Regions from separate parts of the Homo sapiens genome. Here region 2 is linked to region 1. The links come from fine-mapping of genetic effects on gene expression. A gene starts in region 1. The other region holds a variant in brackets. All regions are shown on one strand. Distances are from middle to middle.

The links. PIP is the estimated chance that this variant, and not a neighbour inherited with it, causes the effect.
Region 2: its variant is fine-mapped to the expression of CA8 in whole blood (TOPMed, PIP above 0.99).

The regions. Positions count from the first base shown.
Region 1 is chr8:60,276,791-60,285,349 of GRCh38, forward strand. CA8 (carbonic anhydrase 8) reads right to left here and starts at 4,610. Exons shown (of 9, transcript NM_004056.6): 1 at 4,258-4,610; 2 at 2,899-3,090. The coding sequence starts at 4,357. LOC105375864 (a long non-coding RNA gene) reads right to left here. Exons shown (of 7, transcript XR_001745925.1): 7 at 8,175-8,342. RefSeq lists an enhancer at 4,086-4,592, a silencer at 4,585-4,793 and a cis regulatory region at 8,070-8,559.
Region 2 is chr8:60,310,514-60,319,072 of GRCh38, forward strand. All of the region lies in intron 5 of LOC105375864 (a long non-coding RNA gene), which reads right to left. Among named protein-coding and RNA genes, the nearest start is that of CA8, 33 kb to the left of the region's middle. The variant A/G (reference allele first, on the strand shown) is at 3,719.

The DNA of each region.
Region 1 (8,559 bases):
ACGAGAGTGAAATCATAAGAAAGAGGGCAATAAGAAAACTGGCCTCGTCCAGGTGCTGTGGCTCATACCTGTAATCCCAGCACTTTGGGAGGCCGAGGTGGGCGGATCACCTGAGGTCAGGAGTTTGAGACCAGCCTGACCAACATGGTGAAACCTCGTCTCTACTAAAAATACAAAAATTAGCTTGGTGTGGTGGCGGGCGCCTGTAATCCCAGCTACTTGGGGAGGCTGAGGCAAGAGAATCACTTGAACCTGGGAGGTGGAGATTGCAGTGAGTCAAGACGCACCATTGCACTCCAGCCTAGGCGACAGAGCGAGACTCTGTCTCAAAAGAAAAAAAAAAAAAGGAAAGAAAATTGGCCTCGTCTTCAATAGTAGAGAGTTCATACATAGCTTACTACCAAAGCATAACAGCATTATTATATTCTTACATTCTTGGAGGTAACCACAGGAGAAACAGCTAGAAAGTTTCAAAGTAGTTGTTACTAGGGAACAGCAGCCGTAGGTGGGGAAGAGCAGGGGATAACCACAGGCAGAAAGAACCACAGGCAGAAAGAGTATTATTCACCTTTTTTTTTTTGAGACGGAGTTTTGCTTTTGTCGCCCAGGCTGGAGAGCAATGGCGCAATCTCGGCTCACTGCAACCTCCGCCTCCCAGGTTCAAGTGATTCTCCTGCCTCAACGCCCCAAGTAGCTGGGATTACAGGCGTGTGCCACCATGCCCAGCTAATTTTTGGATTTTTTAGTAGAGATGGGGTTTCACCATGTTGGTCAGGCTGGTGTCGAACTCCTGACCTCCACTGATCCACCCACCTCAGCCTCCCAAAGTGCTGGGATTACACTTGTGAGCCATCACACCCAGCCTATTCAACTATTTTGTATATATTCTATTTTGATAAAGATAAAACATTATTTAAATAAGCGAATGACAGGGTATATAGAGCTTACAAATGGTTCCTCTGAGGAGCTTAAATATCCTAGGGGAAAAAACAACTACTCAAGACATGGTTATTTTGGTTACTTTTCTTGAGTTTGCAGAAATATTGGAAGGGAAAGAACAATAAGGAGGAAATTATTACCATGACAGAGAGGATAAGGGGAATCTGAAGGAGGAAGGTCTCCAGGGAGGCAGGAAAAAAGGGTTCTGGATCATGAGTATCCAAATCAGGCCTAGACAGAAGTGCAGACACTTCTTCTTCAGTGGGCAGGGGTGGAAGAAGGAGGAAGAGAAAAGCACAAAATGCTAGGTGAGGAAGAAACACACTTCATGGTGAGAGGGCCCAGATGTTGGTCCATAGTCTCTGTTTTAGAGTGAGGCAGAAGATTAAAGAAAATTGTGTTTGAGAAGGTAGCAGAAGAAAATGGTAAGTTCAAATTGATGAAGTAAATTTTATCTCAGAGCAGGACTAGGCACACACAGATGCAGTGGAGTATATGTGCTTAGTCATTGCTCTCTGCTCCCACAACCCTTTGTAACACTTGCCACATCAAGTGTACACTAGTACTTTAAAGAACTGGCTTTTCACTAGGCTATGAATCCTCAAGAACTGTCTTATAAATTTATATGCAACCAATATTGATCATGGCACCTGACATGAAATGTATTTTTGTTTTGTGGATATATAAACATTTATTTCCGGAAGTTCAAAGCATCTCAACACATCAACACACATGTACTTCTTTAAATTGCTTTTTATATGCCAGAACAGTCAGCATTCAATAATTTTACAATATCCTTTAAAAAACAGTAAGTAATGTCCCATCAAAGCTAAACCCACACCCCCAAAAAAATTCAAGTCGAAATTTCCATCTTAAACTGACTCTGACTAAGTACATATAAAGCCCAGTAACTCTTTTGGGCAATGCTCACATGCTGACTAAACTCAGAACAGCGAAGGAGACTACATGAATCTATGACTATCTCATGGATTCTAAATTAAAGCTTAGAAACATTTACAATGAATAAAATAAATCCATAGCTGGAAATCAACAGCTGCCTTGATTAATAACAAACCTAAAGATTTTATAGTTTGAGGTATCAACTTTATCAACTTGGAATTAATTTTCGAGCACAGTCTCTATTTATCAAGTACGTCCTAATATTTCAACATACTTTAATTTTTCCCAAAAGAAAAAGACAGTTATTATTCACTATGAAATGCATGCTATTAATGCTACATTTTTTAAAAATCTGATTTCCTCTTTCCTACGATAAAGCCAAAAACTGATTTCCTTGGTAATTACCTAACAACTTTTGCACAGAACATTTCAGATCCATCTCAAATAGGTTTGCAAGTGGTAGGAGAAGTTTCATGGGATGGAACTTAAATAAATAAATAAATAAATAAATAAAAGGAAGAGGTTTGTTTACCATTTAAATCTCTGGCTGAGTTTAGAGGCTGTTTCTTATTGTTATTAGTTAAAATTATTTTTGGCAAACTAATACAGTAGAGAAAATTAACCTGAGAAGTCTACCTTGAATGCCACGTTATGTCAATAAATTCTAATCTTTGGTTTCACAAAGTAGCAAAACAGAGAATTATGATTATCTAAGTGATTTAAGCTAATCAACAATTTTGGACAAAACGCAGATTACTGCACCTGCATGTACCTGTCCTCATATTTCACAAGGTATAAGGTGATCAAACTAAGGTTTTTCCAGTAACATCATAAGAAGCAGAACAACCGACTGATAATCTTCATAATTTCACTCTTTTGTCCTTTCAAAATTGTTTCAGAAGGTAATTCCCAAAAATGCTTTATATTATAATACAAAGGTATCCTGAAAATAGAGATACGTCAGTTGTACTTTTTAAATTGTGCAAGTTAAATCACAGTTCAATAACTCTACGCTGACTTCTAGTTTAAAAGACCACACAAACATATTTTCTAAAATACCTGATTTTGACTTCAGGATAACCTGAATGGTATGTCCATCATTGGTGACTTCACAGTCTCGGCACACCACATAATTTGGGGAGAGGCGGACATCCAACAGCGAGGGGTCATACCTAGCCTCTCTTGAGTTTAGGTTAATAGGAGACTGGTATTCCCCATTAGCATCAGGAAACACCAGACCCCACTCAACACCTAAGAACAAAATGAAATAAATTAAAAACAGGTTAAAAAATAAATTACAGTAAAATTTAACATGTAAAAACTAAACACTTAGAACCCTTGATATCATGAAGAGAGTAATGATACCATCACTATACAGATGAAATATGGTAATTCTATTTGTTTTTGCATTCATTATTTGAATGATCTGTTATTATCAAATACCATACACAAAATCCCGGACTAGCAAAATATTCTATTTGTATTTGTCAACAAAGACATAATAATTTATGATTCTAGGAAATTTGGGTCATTTTTAAGTGATTAGGAAAAAAGAATACCAGAACAATTTCTTCTGCTTATTAGTTCAATTACGTTCAGTACCTGGGAAACAGCTGTAACTTTCAACATACTTAGTGACAGTCAGAACCCTAACTCTCATGCTAGTAAATAGACGCCCCTTATCAGAAATGCAAGTGTAGTATTTTAAAGTGTGCATATGTATATATCTGTGTACATACATATTCCCATAGTCTTTCCAAATTTTTTATAATTAAAATTATATATTCTATATTGGTTTCAACATATGTAGTAAACATCAGCACTACTGGTTGGCTCTAATAGGAGCCCTAGGTCTTTAGGAATAAATCTAGGAAACTCGAGTTTTTCAGAAAGTCAACCGCTTCTCGCCAAACCCAATGATTCAGTCTGAAATTTAGGACATGTTTTAGAAAGACTTGAGCATTGCTAGCAGGCTTCACGAAAAGACCAGAGGCAGAAACACTTTCTCCCCAAAGTCTCCAAGCCAAAAACGAATTCTTCACGCTAACACTGTCTTCCTCAGGTGTTTAGTAAAATGTACCGCTGCTCTTCTTGACTACTCAGAAGACATAAAAGGTACAGCCACGGCTTGGAGGCTAGCCCGCCCTCCGGACCGCAGCAGGTGCGAACGCCAGCCCTGCGGAAGGCTCCCGGGTGAGAGCGCAGGCGGCGGAAGAGCGCAGGCGGCGAGCACGCCTCCCTGGAGCGCCTCCCGCCCGAAACGCACCAGGGGAGTGGGAAAGTGGCAGAGACCCCCGTGGGAAAGAGGGGGCGTGGGGGTGCTCGGAGCGCGCAGCGGCAGCAGGACTCGAGTCCCGCGCTCGGCGAGACACTGACGCCGCCGCGGGACCCCGGACACCCCGACTCGCGGCCACTTACCTTCCTCGTAGCCCCACTCCACACCCTCCTCTTCTTCCTCCTCATCCTCTTCCTTCTCGGGGAAGGCGACGGTATCTTCGATGAAGCTCAGGTCCGCCATGGGAAGGCCGCGGGGCCCCTCGGCGCTCTCGGCAGCAGTGCCTGCGCCTTCGCTGGGCGCGGGGCTGGAGCCGGAGCGGAGCGCGCGTGGGGGAGTGTGAGCACGCGTGAGCGGCAGTGTGAGTGCGAGAGCGCCTCCGGGTGTGAACCGCAGTGTGAGTGCAAGCAGGCGTGCGTTCGGACCGAGTGTTCCAGAGACCCGCGTGGGAAGCGCGTCCGGAGGCCCCAGCAGAGCGAGGGAGCGGCTGTGGCCTGGGGAGCGAGCGCCTGGCGAATTTTATACCCGACCGGGGCGTGTCTGGTACGCGAGGATCCGCCCCCTTCTCTCTCTGGCCGTTGGGGCCAGGGGAGCCGACAGTTAGAATGCGCCTCGGGGCGACTAGTCCCAAGTCACGGAAACCTCGGCGCATCCCCGCCCGCCCTTCCCCCGGGGTCGCCCCCGCCGCCTCCTGGCGCTTCCTCGCTGCGGCGACTCCTGCTTGGCCGCCCGAGCCTTCCTTCCAGAAGCCCGCAAGTCTCCCAAGGTCACTCGGGACCCCTGTGTGCCTGGCCTAGCCCAGAGGCTGCTCACCTATTCATTTTCATCCGTACTCCAGGAAATACCAAAAAGAAGGGGTCCTGGAGGAGAGAGATGGGCTGCCGTGGGTAGGAGAAAGGAGAGGGCTAGGAGACCCCGTAACACAATAAAAAGAGACTCTCCAGCGGAATCTTCTTAGTATCTTCTGAGTATTTACTTTTTAAATCGTCCGTTCAGCGCAGTGGAAACGAGTTTGGAAATTTTTCCAAGAAAGTTCTATTAATTCCTAAAAACGTTTAAGAAAAGAAAATGGTTGTTATCTAGAGAAGTAGCTATGATTTAGGGTTGTGTTTTTTTTTTTTTTTTTTCCAGAAAAGGGTATTGTTTCAAAGCAGGGCTAGCAGAAGGCAGTAGACAGAGGGTGTTCGCTGTCAGAGTCTGGGGCGCTGCTGCAGGCTCACCTGGCTGTGTACACAGCTCCCATTCACCTAGTGAAATCGTGTAAATAATGAAGTGCACACATTGCATAACAAACAGGAACTCTTCTGATCCAAAGAGGTGGCATTGTTACCCTTAAACGTGCTTCTCAGTCTAGTGTTAACGACTTCAGCCCTCTGTTCCTGTGCCTTTTAAAAGCCCTGGTCAGTAACCCCTAAGTAGGTTAACTCCACATTTTTAGAAGATATATGTGCACAATAAACTCGAGTTAGGACCTTAAGTACAATTTGTTTTTTATATGCTCTGGTCATTCATGAAGATATCTATTTGCACTTTGAATAACCTGTTCCTAAATCACACCAGCCTTATGAATGCATAATTCCTCAAATAAGGATGGAAATGATCCGTTTGGGAATGTTTAGTTTCAGTGCTCATATCCTTTACTGCCTGCTAAGCACCTCCACTTTTTAAAAAGACACTTCATAGCTTTTAAAAAAAAAAAATTACAAACTGCTCCAGAAAGTACACTGAGATGGAAAGAAGTGGGGGGAACCCTCAACTCGCTCAATTCTGCCACTTTCTGGAAGGTTTAACCAAATATATGGAAAACTACTGGCCAACATTAGCTTGGAGGATAACCGGTGGATTTTAAGCATTCATATAATTTCTCTTTTCCTTAACTGTGCAGAGGACTGAAACAGTTTGAGAAACTAAATTCATTTTTCACTCACTGCATTCTGGGTGTTCTTTAGTGGACGGTCGTTTGCATCTTTGCAAGCCTGGGACTGGCAGAAGCAGAAGCCTACCCCAAAGCCAGAGCTATTAAAAATAATAAGCACTACTGAAAATATTAACTACTTTTCACTGAAGGTCTTCTAAAAGGAACATTTATTTTTCCTTTCTTGAAAACTTTTTTGTAATCTTCTATTTGTTTTAAGTTTCTTTTTAGAAGTATGTTCACACGTTAATTAAATGCCACAGCTAAGGAAGCCCATACAAAGGCTATGAAGGAATTGGATAATAAAAGCACTGCCACTCTGAGCTCATCAGCAATGGCCTTTCTCCTCTGTCCCCCAAATGTGCCTAAGTATGACATTGTAGCCATTGTGTGACCACCAACTGTGTTTAAAATATCAGGTGAATCATAGAGATGTTTATCAAACCAGAGGATGGTACAATCACCATGGTAAAAAACTGAATTTTCCATGAATAAATACTGTGCCATATTTACAAAAGATAGGCTGAAAGATTGAATTATTAGTATTTACTTTTACAGTAAAAAGACAATTTTGCATATAGCCAGCAATGTATTACTATTCAAATATGCAGTTGACTACTAGCATTGGCCTATATTTGCTCCTTCTGAATTGTTCATGATTATTTGTAGAATGTAACTCCTGTATGCAAGCCTAGGGTTCCCTGTCCAGCCACATATGAGCCAATCCTCTAAGCACCCAAATATTCAATTAACAGCCTTAATTGCTTTGAGACTGTGGGGTTCAGATTTTTGCTAATTAACAGCACCTTAAGACCTTCTCTTCTCAGGTCCCTGCACTATATTACCACCAAAGATGGAATTTCTATTTCTAGTTATTATAAGGTGTCTGTCACTAAAAAAATCTAAACACACAGATCAAAGATATAGGGCAATTCTTTGTTTTACAAAATAGAACAAGCACATCTAAATCCAATACCAGAGAATCTAAAAATATTCATACTCTGTATTATGAATGTGTCTTCCACATATTCCTCTATAATTTTTAATAGGCTTTCAGCCTAATATTATATTTGATCCCTTAAATTAACTTTATATTGCTCACATTTAGTGCTTGCATAGCTAAGACCAAACCATATTAGTAGAACAATTTATTAAAACTAAGACCTATATAACTAACTACCATTTGATACTAAGAGAATATAAATAGAAATATCTAAAAGGGACAAACTAATCTAGATGTCAGAGGAACCAAAGTACTAAGGTCGCTTCCCAGAGTCCACAACCTAGACAGCCCGCTCCTGTCTTTCCTCACTGCTTGTCTACCGTACCAAAGCTTTCTTATTGTATCGGTGAGTCTAGGCCCTAGAGTCATAAATTTGACCTCCTCTTATGTGCATCTTATGCTCTGGGATCACCTCAAGGGTACAGCTAACATATGCATGTCACGTGGCTCCTATACAAACTGTAATTCATAAACTTCAACAGCAATGAATTGGGTTCCTTCATGTGCGCTGCTCTGGACTAGGCACTGTGGGAGAACCAAAAATAAAAAATAAAATACTTCTTCTGCTCTCAAGGAACTCATGGTTCTCTGGAGGGAGGAGAGGGGTAAATAATTATAATACAAGGCAATACGCAATATTAATATGTTAAATAGAAATGCAGGTACCACTACATCTAAGGAAGATGGAATTTTCATACTAATGGGAATGATTTAGAAAAGTTGAACAAGATGGCATTTGGGGCAAACTAGAGGAAATGGGCAGAGTTTGGGTGGGCAGCATGTGAGCAAATAACATTCCAGGTGTGAACAAAGATGCCGAATCATGCAAGTGCTCATTGCGGATCTATTTGCTCCCTTAAATGCCATCTGTGACTGCCAAAACCAATTCAGATACACTAAAAATAAGCACTTCTCTAGGCTTATGTCTCAGGTAAGGCACTTTTTCCTATGGTTGTTTAATTCCTTATGTCTAGTTTTTCTTTTGTCAGGAAAGACAGCAAAATTTTCTTCATTATATATATTTTGATTTCTGAAGGTTTCAAACTTTGTTGATAAAAAAATTTACTTCTTCCTTTTAAATTACTTTTTTCAACTGATTAATCTTTTATTTCACCTGCTTAAAGTTACATTTACGAGCCTCCTTTTTTTTGACCTCTTCTTGGTCTTTTATCTTCAGAAACAAACGACTAGGGCTCCATGTAGTCATTGGAGATGACATCATTGTCTCTATCATTTGCTGCCCCTTCACTGCTTGACCATGTGACTTCTTTGACGAATTAAATATGAGTAGAGGTGGCACGTGCCATTTCCTAGAAGAAAGATTTAGGCGTTATCAAAAACAGACATAGTAGCCCATCAAGTAAAGGTGAGTTCAAGGATAATTTTTATTTGCTCAAATGCTGTTTTTGCCTTTATCTTTTTCTTCAAAGAAAAAAAAAAAGTATCTCTGGCCTGCAAAGAAACCAAACAGTCTAGTACAGTGCTCTTATCTTCACCTCACCAATTTCTTGGACGCCCTAACCCCAG
Region 2 (8,559 bases), 34 kb after region 1:
GGAGGTGATAGAGGGATTATAGGGTGGGAAAGCGGAGGCCGAGGAAGAATTGGAGCCTGATTCAGCCTGACGGTAAGCGACCTGAGGAGGAGCAGCCTGGGGAGGAGGGGAGAGGTCAGATGAGTCGGTAGAAAAGGAAGATTGAAAAGACTCAGTGACACATGGGGTTGGGACTGAGGGGACAGGCAGGAGGGAAAGAAGGAAGATTTGGGATTAGTTACATTGGGAACAGAGACTAGGGAGGGACCAATGTGTAAAAGAATGCCTGGACGTCAGGCACCTCAGACCTTTTGCCCATTTTATGACAAGAAGTATCTAGATCTTGTAGGATGGAGAAATTGAAAGTGCCATTTTCTAGCTATTTGGAACCATTGTCGGGTTTGTATTGGGGTCAAGCGGTCAAGAAGAAAATAGGTGTTTAGGTTTTAGGTCAAGTGTGAGTTGAAGAGCTTTTAAGTTCTTGAAAACACAGGCTAAGGGAGAAGAAGGAGGAATGGAGGGTGGAAGGTTGCCTATAGTGAAGGAGACAAGCCCAGAGATGAGAGGGTAGAGACATGGGAGAAGGGGTGGGGGGTGCTTGCCCCCCAGGAAAGTGGTGCTTGCTACTAAGGGTGAAGGATCAAGGCAGGTGTCCCTGCAGTGATTAGACACCTCTGAAACGTAGGTAAATAATCAAGCAGGCCTCCCCGCAGTGATTAAACACCAAGGGAAGACTGTCTTCCTGAGTCCGTGACTGGCGCCAGAGTTTTGGGTTCATGGATAAAACACATCTTCTCTGTCTCTACCAGAAAAGGAAAGGAGCTGAAATTAAAAGAAGGGAGAGATTGAAGGATGGTGCCAAGATTGAAAGGAGAAAGAGGTTGAGGGATAGTGAGAGAGGCTGGATAAGAGAATAAAAAGAGGCCACTTACCTGATTTAAAATTGGTGAGATGTTCCTTGGGCTGGTTGGTCTGAGGACCTGAGGTCACAGGTGCATCTTTCTCATGGAGCAAAGAGCAGGAGGACAGGGGATTGATCTCCCAAGGGAGGTCTCCCGATCCAAGTCATGGCACCAAATGTCAAGAGCGTCCGTGTGAAGAGACCACCAAACAGGCTTTGTGTGAGTAATAAAGCTTTTTAATCACCTGGGTGCAGGCAGGCTGAGTCCGAAAAGAGAGTCAGTGAAGGGAGATGAGATAGGTGTGGGGCCGTTTTATAGGATTTGGGTGGGTAGTGGAAAATTACAGTCTAAGGGGGTTGTTCTTTGGTGGGCAGAGTGGGGGGTCACCAGGTGCTCAGTGGGGGAGCTTCTGAGCCAGGAGAAGGAATTTCACAAGGTTAATTGCTCAGTTAAGGTGGGGCAGGAACAAATCACAATGGTGGAATGTCATCAGTTAAGGCAGGAACCAGCCATTTTTACTTCTTTTGTGATTCTTCACTTTCTTCAGGCCATCTGGATGCATTCGTGCAGGTCACAAGGGATATGATGGCTTAGCTTGGGCTCAGAGGCCTGACACTTAGGGCTTTTGTTTTGTTTTGTTTTGTTTTTTGAGATGGAGTCTCACTCCTGTCACGCAGGCTGGAGTGCAACAGCGTGATCTCGGCTCACTGCAACCTCCATCTCTGGGTTCAAGTGATTCTCCTTCCTCACCTCCTGAGTAGCTGGGATTACAGGCATGCACCACCATGCCCGGATAATTTTTGTATTTTTAGTAGAGATGGGATTTCGCCATGTTGGCCAGGCTGGTCTTGAACTCCTGACCTCAGGAGATCCACCCACCTCAGCCTCCCAAAGTGCTAGGATTACAGGGGTGAGCCACCACGCCCAGCCAAGGGCTCTTTTTTCCTTAATGTAAATGTGCACAAAGACCATATTATTTTGGCAAGTAGAGGTGCCATAAAACCTACAGACTGCTCAAAAGGGGGTCATTCTCCTTGTTTTCTCATCATTCTTAGATTGTTTCCCATTTTTTTTCTTTCTTTTTTTTTTTTTTTAAGGGAGGAACTGAGCTATGGTCCATGGTTTTTGTGTGGTGGATCAACATGTGCTGCTTGTGGGCAGGACTCCACAGTGTGTCACCACTGAGTAGTTTCAACCCTTTTATATGTCTCAGTTTCTCCCTCCAGAGGTCTGTGACCTCAGAGAGGGCTCAAAACACCAGATGATTAGCCCTTACATGTGTTACCTAGATGAGCCATTTATAAAATTAATTTTTGTTGGGGATTCCCTTGCAGGGCTGCTGCACGTCATGGGGTGGTCAACCTCCCAGACACTCCCATGGGGCCCCCGGTCACCCAGGGAAGCCTTTCAGCTGGAAGGAGCAAAATGCCCCTTCTCTTCAGGGCTAAGAAAACTCAGTCTCTCATTAACATATCAAAACAACAGTTTAGTTCCTCATGCAAATGCACACAGACAAACTCAATTAAGATTAAAAATTTGGGACAAAAAGCAATAGAGAAGACCTTTCAAATGCATCTCCAAACTAGAATTAGGATCCTTAAACAACAACTTTAAATGGGAACAAACAACAAAGCCCCAACAACATGATCACTGAACCCTCTAATGGTAAGGAGAAATTCATGTTACAGGAAAGGGGGCCAGATCCAGGCTCCAAGACAGGGTTCTTGGATCTCGTGCAGGAAAGAATTCAGGGTTAGTCCATAGAGTAACATAAAAGCAAGTTTATTAAGAAAATAAAGGAGTAGGCTGGGCGCAGTGGCTGACACCTGTAATCCCAGCACTCTGGAGGCCAAGGTGGGCAGATCACCTGAGGTCAAGAGTTTGAGACCAGCCTGGCCAATATGGTGAAACCCCGTCTCTACTAAAAATACAAAAATTAGCCAGGTGTAGTGGCACGTGCCTGTAGTCTCAGCTGCTCGGGAGGTTGAGGCAGGAGAATCGCTTGAACCAGGGAGGCAGAAATTGCATGGACCTGAGATCACACCGCTGCATTCTAGCCCAGGTGACAGAGTGAGACTCCATCTCAAAAAAAAAAAGGAAAAAAAAAAAAGAAAGGAGTAGAAGAATGCCTACTCCACAGACAGAGCAGCCCTGAGGGCTGCTGGTTGCCCATTTTTATGGTTATTTCTTCATTATGTGCTAAACAAGGGGTGGATTATTCATGCCTCTCCTTTTTAGATCATATAGGGTAACTTCCTTACATTGCCATGGCATTTACAAACTGTCATGGCACTGATGTGAGTGTAGCAGTGAGGACGATCAGAGGTCACTTTTGTTACCATCTTGGTTTTGGTGGGATTTGACAAGCTTCTTTACTGCAAACTATTTTATCAGCAAGGCCTTTATGATCTGTCTTGTGCTGACCTCCTATCTCATCTTGTGACTTAGAATGCCCAACCATCTGGAAATCCAGCCCAATTGGTCTCAGCCTCATTTTACCCAGCCTCTACTCAAGATGGAGTTGCTCTGGTTCAAATGCCTCTGACATGTAGACCAGTTGGTTGTTAATCTTAACTTTAGCCAAGCTAAACCCTAATTCAGTTACTTATCTAGGAATGGGTTTCAGGCAGAAGACTGCTCTCTACCATCCTAGAAGCAGGAAAAACAACAACAACAACAACACACACACACACACACACACACACACACACTCATCTTCTCTGTTGGAAGTGAGCTTAAACTCCATAAAGGAGTTACCTGCCTTCCCTCATGGGCCCAAGATATTTTCCTTTCACATTCCTATAAAAGATTATATAACTTCTGCTTGAACATTTTCA[A/G]TGACAGAGAACCCACAAATCAAAACTTCTATTTCTTTTTCTTTTCTTTTTCTTTTTTTTTTTTTTTTTGAGACAGAGTCTCCCTCTGTCACCCAGGCTGAAGTGTTTTAGCATGATCTAGGCTCATTGTAACCTCCACCTCCCAGGTTCAAGTGATCCTCCTGCCTCAGCCTCCCAAGTAGCTGGGATTACAGGTACATGCCACCACGCCCGGCTAATTCTTTTTTTTTTTTCAGTAGAGACAGGGTTTCACTGTGTTGGCCAAGCTGGTCTTGAACTCCTGACCTCAAGTGATCCACCCATCTGAGCCTCCCAAAGTGCTAGGACTACAGGCATGAGCCACCACACCTGGCCCAAAACTCCCATTTCTTAATAAGTTTTTCATATATTAAGATCTGCTTTGCTGTAGCTTCTTACCCCCTCCTACCCCTACCCCCAACCCCGTTTACTCTGGTTCTGACCTCTGGAACTACACAAAATAAGGACAGCGCTTTGCTTCATGACAGTTCTTTAGTATTTTATAACTTGGATCACTGTCCACAGTGCATCTCATCTTTGCCCGGCTGAAAATATTCCTGGTCCTATCGTGTGTCCACATAATATTAATACATAATTTCAAGAGCTTCTGCTCTCCTGGTTACACTCTGGATAAACATTCTTCTCTTCATAATATATCTCACGTAAAAAAATGGTCCAAGTCTTAGAAACAGACCAAAGTGATTCCTGGTGTCCTTTCAGTGGAGGGCAGGACATTGTTAGCAGACCCTCTGGGATTCTCTAATTCCACAGGACGTGCACTTTCAATTGCCTGTGATTGACTAGGCTATTTTACAACTCTGTTGGAATAGGGTTTAAGTTATAGAAAATGGATAACGATGCAAATGTTTCCTGCCCATAGCTATGCAAATGATACCCGTGCATGACAATGCAAATGAATTTTGTCTGGCAGAGAATATAAATCTCTGCAAATCAAAATCTCATTTTAAATGGTTTTTAATTAATGAGTTAAATAAAATATTTGACACATTTATTTTATTTTTGTGATTTTACATTTCTGAAAATTATGCTTTTAACCCTCAGGAAACAGGTTCCCAGAACGCAGTGGACCCTTCCTGCTTGCCTGGTGACTCTACGTGTGGTGGGAACTCGAGAGCTTTTTAATAACCTCATTAGCACTATTGACACTTTGAGTACAGAGTGAAACAAAACAATTATTTTCTTCACAGATGATACTGTAGCCAAGTTTCTCATATCTTATGCCTTTATTTTGTAACACGAATGCTAGATTTTTAAATATTTATTTCTTTTAAGTTTAATGTTGAGAATGTGAGCTCATTACTCCAGCCCAAGGAAACAATTGTCCTGTCATTTATGTCTTTATCAAAGAACAAACCAGAATCCAAAACCGCTCAGAACTCAGAGGACTTTGGTAAGCAGAACCTGCTTTCACGGCCGGAATAGGGGAGAGAGAAGGGAGTACAAGGGTTTCTCTGCAGAAGCACAATCCAGCTGAGGCTGATGCAGGTTTGTGGGAAACTTACACAACTGGGGCTGGGAGGCTGTAAGCGGTCCTCTCCAGGAAGAATGGTAGTAACCACAGGAGCATCTCAAACTGGGCCTACTCTATTGATAATAGAATGTCTAAGTACCTTGTAGATATAACAGAGCCAAGACTGCAAGTCATATGGCCCAGGCATGTACAATAGGAAAGATTTGACCTCTGACATCCAAAACCAACAATTCCTCCCCACGGAACCAGGAAGACCAGGACACAACCAGAACCTGAACATCAGAACCATTTCAAAAGCGAGGGGGTCTGACGGCCAGGAAGATCCAGGGCTAAAATCAGCCTCAACGTACCTTACCAAAAATAGTCACATTTGAAGCTCTCCAATCAGACCTTACCACACCAAAATCCTTTCTGCCTTCCAATCCCTTGAAACTTGCCGCAGACTCAAATTTGGGAGACAGATTTCAGCCATGCCTTCTGTGTCAGCCTCTCAATGAATTGTTTTTTATCTCAAAAGCTGGTGCCGTAGTATGGCTTCTAATTACATCAAGCAGTGAGACCATTTGCTCAATAACAGAATAATGCAAAATTGTCCATTTTTCTTTATACAATGTTACACATACTTCACTAAAATTACTCTCCTCAAAATAATATAAAATTAAGAATATAAAATTGCTAGAGCCTCTCCAAGGGCCTTGCAAGGTACCCTGTGAAAGTGATGGGCCCTGAGCATAAGCTTCTTTGGCTTCCCCATTAAGTCTGTCTGAAGGTCTGCTAAGGTGTGTCAGTGCAGAGAACGTCCTCAGTACCTAGGAGTGCGACTTCCTGCCTATCTCACAATTTTCGTGTCATTCATTTCTGTGACTCCCACCTCTTTACAAAAGATATGTAGAAGCTCCATGCACCTACTTTTTGGGGGTGACCACTAATTATTACTACTATTATTATTATTCAGCCCCATGACTTCCTATATTATTCTTAGAGATCACTTGGGAAACTGATTATCTTGATTTTAACAGAATGAAGTTTTCAAAGCTGTTGACCTTTATAAAAATCTAGTCTCCATGCACCTATTTTTTTGGAATCATTTAAAAATTATTCCGAGCTTACTCTGCTTTCCTTTTTAGAGGCCTCATAGATACAGACAAAGAATCTTTGCTTGGCCAAACTCTACTCAGCCTTCTGAATATTCTTCTAGGCCCATCTGTGCACTTCCATGTAAAATCCAGTTTTCGCAAGACCCCTGCTAAGTCAGTTTAGCCTGAATTCACCTTACCCCAGAGATTCCCTCTTGGTAATTTTTCCATTTGCTGACCCCTACCCTGCTCCTTGGCTCTATGGTCCCACTTGCCCATGCTGTACTCAGAGTTGAGCCCAGTCTCTCTCCTTCACTGCAATACCCCATCGCTGTGGTCCCCATACCTATTGCGGTGGACCTGAATAAAGTCTGCCTTACTGTGCTATGACAAGTGTCATTGAATAATTTTTTTCTTTAACAATACCTATTTTCAGATGCCTGAATTTTTTTGGGTTTTTTCCAGAGTAAAACAACAGATGTTGGTGTGGATGCAGAGAAAAGAGAATGCTTATACACTGTTGGTAGAAATGTTAAATCAGTATGACCTCTATGGAAAACAGTATGGAGATTTCTCAAGGAACTAAAAGTAGGACTACCATTCTTCCCAGCAACCCCATGACTGGTTATCTACCCAAAGGAAAATAAATCATTATATAGAGAGACACCCACACTCATATGTTTATGGTGGCACTATTCACAGTAGCAAAGTCATGGAATCAACCTAAATGTCCATCAATGGTTAAATGGATAAAGAAAATGTGTATGTGTACACCATGGAATACTAGACAGCCATAAAAAAGAATGAAATAATGTCCTTTACAGCAACATGGGTGAACCTGAGGTCATTATCCTAAGTGAAATAACTCAGAAACAGAAAATCAAATACTGCATGTTCTCACTTATAAGAGGAAGTTAAACAATGGTATACACGGATATAAAGATGAAAATAATAGATGCTGCAGACCCCAAAAGCAGGGAGAGCAGGAAGGGAGTGAGAATTGGAGAATCACCTATTGTGTACAGTGTTCACTATTTGAGTGATGGGTATACTAGAAGCCCAAACCTCACCATTATGTAATACATCCATGTGACAAACCTGCACATGTACCCCCTGAATCTAAAATAATATTTCTTAAAGATATACAAAAGTATGAATTTTAAATATTATATGCATGGGTCATCACAGAAAAAGAAAGTGAGTACTCGAAAAGCAGTGAGATTTGAAAGCTTATATACTATCTTAAAAGGGTAAGGGGAGGCAGATATAGGTCACGTGGAGAGTAAATGGTATTTAGGAAAGATGAGGGGCAGTAGAAGAAGAGATAGGAGATATGATCGTTTGGGACAACGTTTTTCTGGATTTAGTGTCAACTTCTAGTCTCCTCTGCTGTGAGAAGAGTCAGTCTTCTCTGGTTGATAAAATTTCCTGGAGAGGGGATTTATGACAATTGAGATCCTTTTGGAAGATCTGTCTTTAAGCAGATAAGCAGAGTTCAGAGAAAGCCTCTCCCTGAATTTGCTGTTTTTCAAATGCCTTCAGCTTAAAATAATCAAAGAGTGGCATATTTTTGGGTGGCACATCCCGAATTACTTCATAGTCATATTTTGGGGTAGCATATTCTGTTCTTTAACAATACAAGGAGGAAAATGCATGAGAAAAACAAAGAAATATCTGGGCTTTGAGAAAGATTTGGAAATAATGACAAATCAAATATCTATCCATTTACTTTACAAGCATTTGTTGATCTCCTTCTTGTGCCAGACAATAAACAAATAATTGCACTGCAGGGTTAATAAGCACAAAGCTTATATGCAAAGCTCAGAGGCAGCCTAGAAGTAGGGTTGAGAGAATAGTGGGTTAGAATGTGGAAAAATTGGTCGAATGGGCTTTGGGAATTATTCCGTTGATTATTTAAAGAAGTTCTAGAATTTGTTAATTATGTTACACTTAACTTTGGAAAATATATTTGACCAATGCTTATATGGTGCTTAATTGCTGTGTGCCAGTCACTGTTCTAAGCATTCTATAATTGTTAATTCAATTAACAATCCAATGGGATAGTATTGTTATCATTCCCATTTTATAGATGAGAAAACTGAGTCTCTAAAGGTTTAGAAAGCATGATTCAGGGCCGGGTGCAGTGGCTCACACCTGTAATCCCAGCACTTTGGGAGGCCAAGGCGGGAGGATCACCTGAGGTCAGGAGTTTGAGACCAGCCTGGCCAACATGGTGAAACCCCATCTCTACTAAA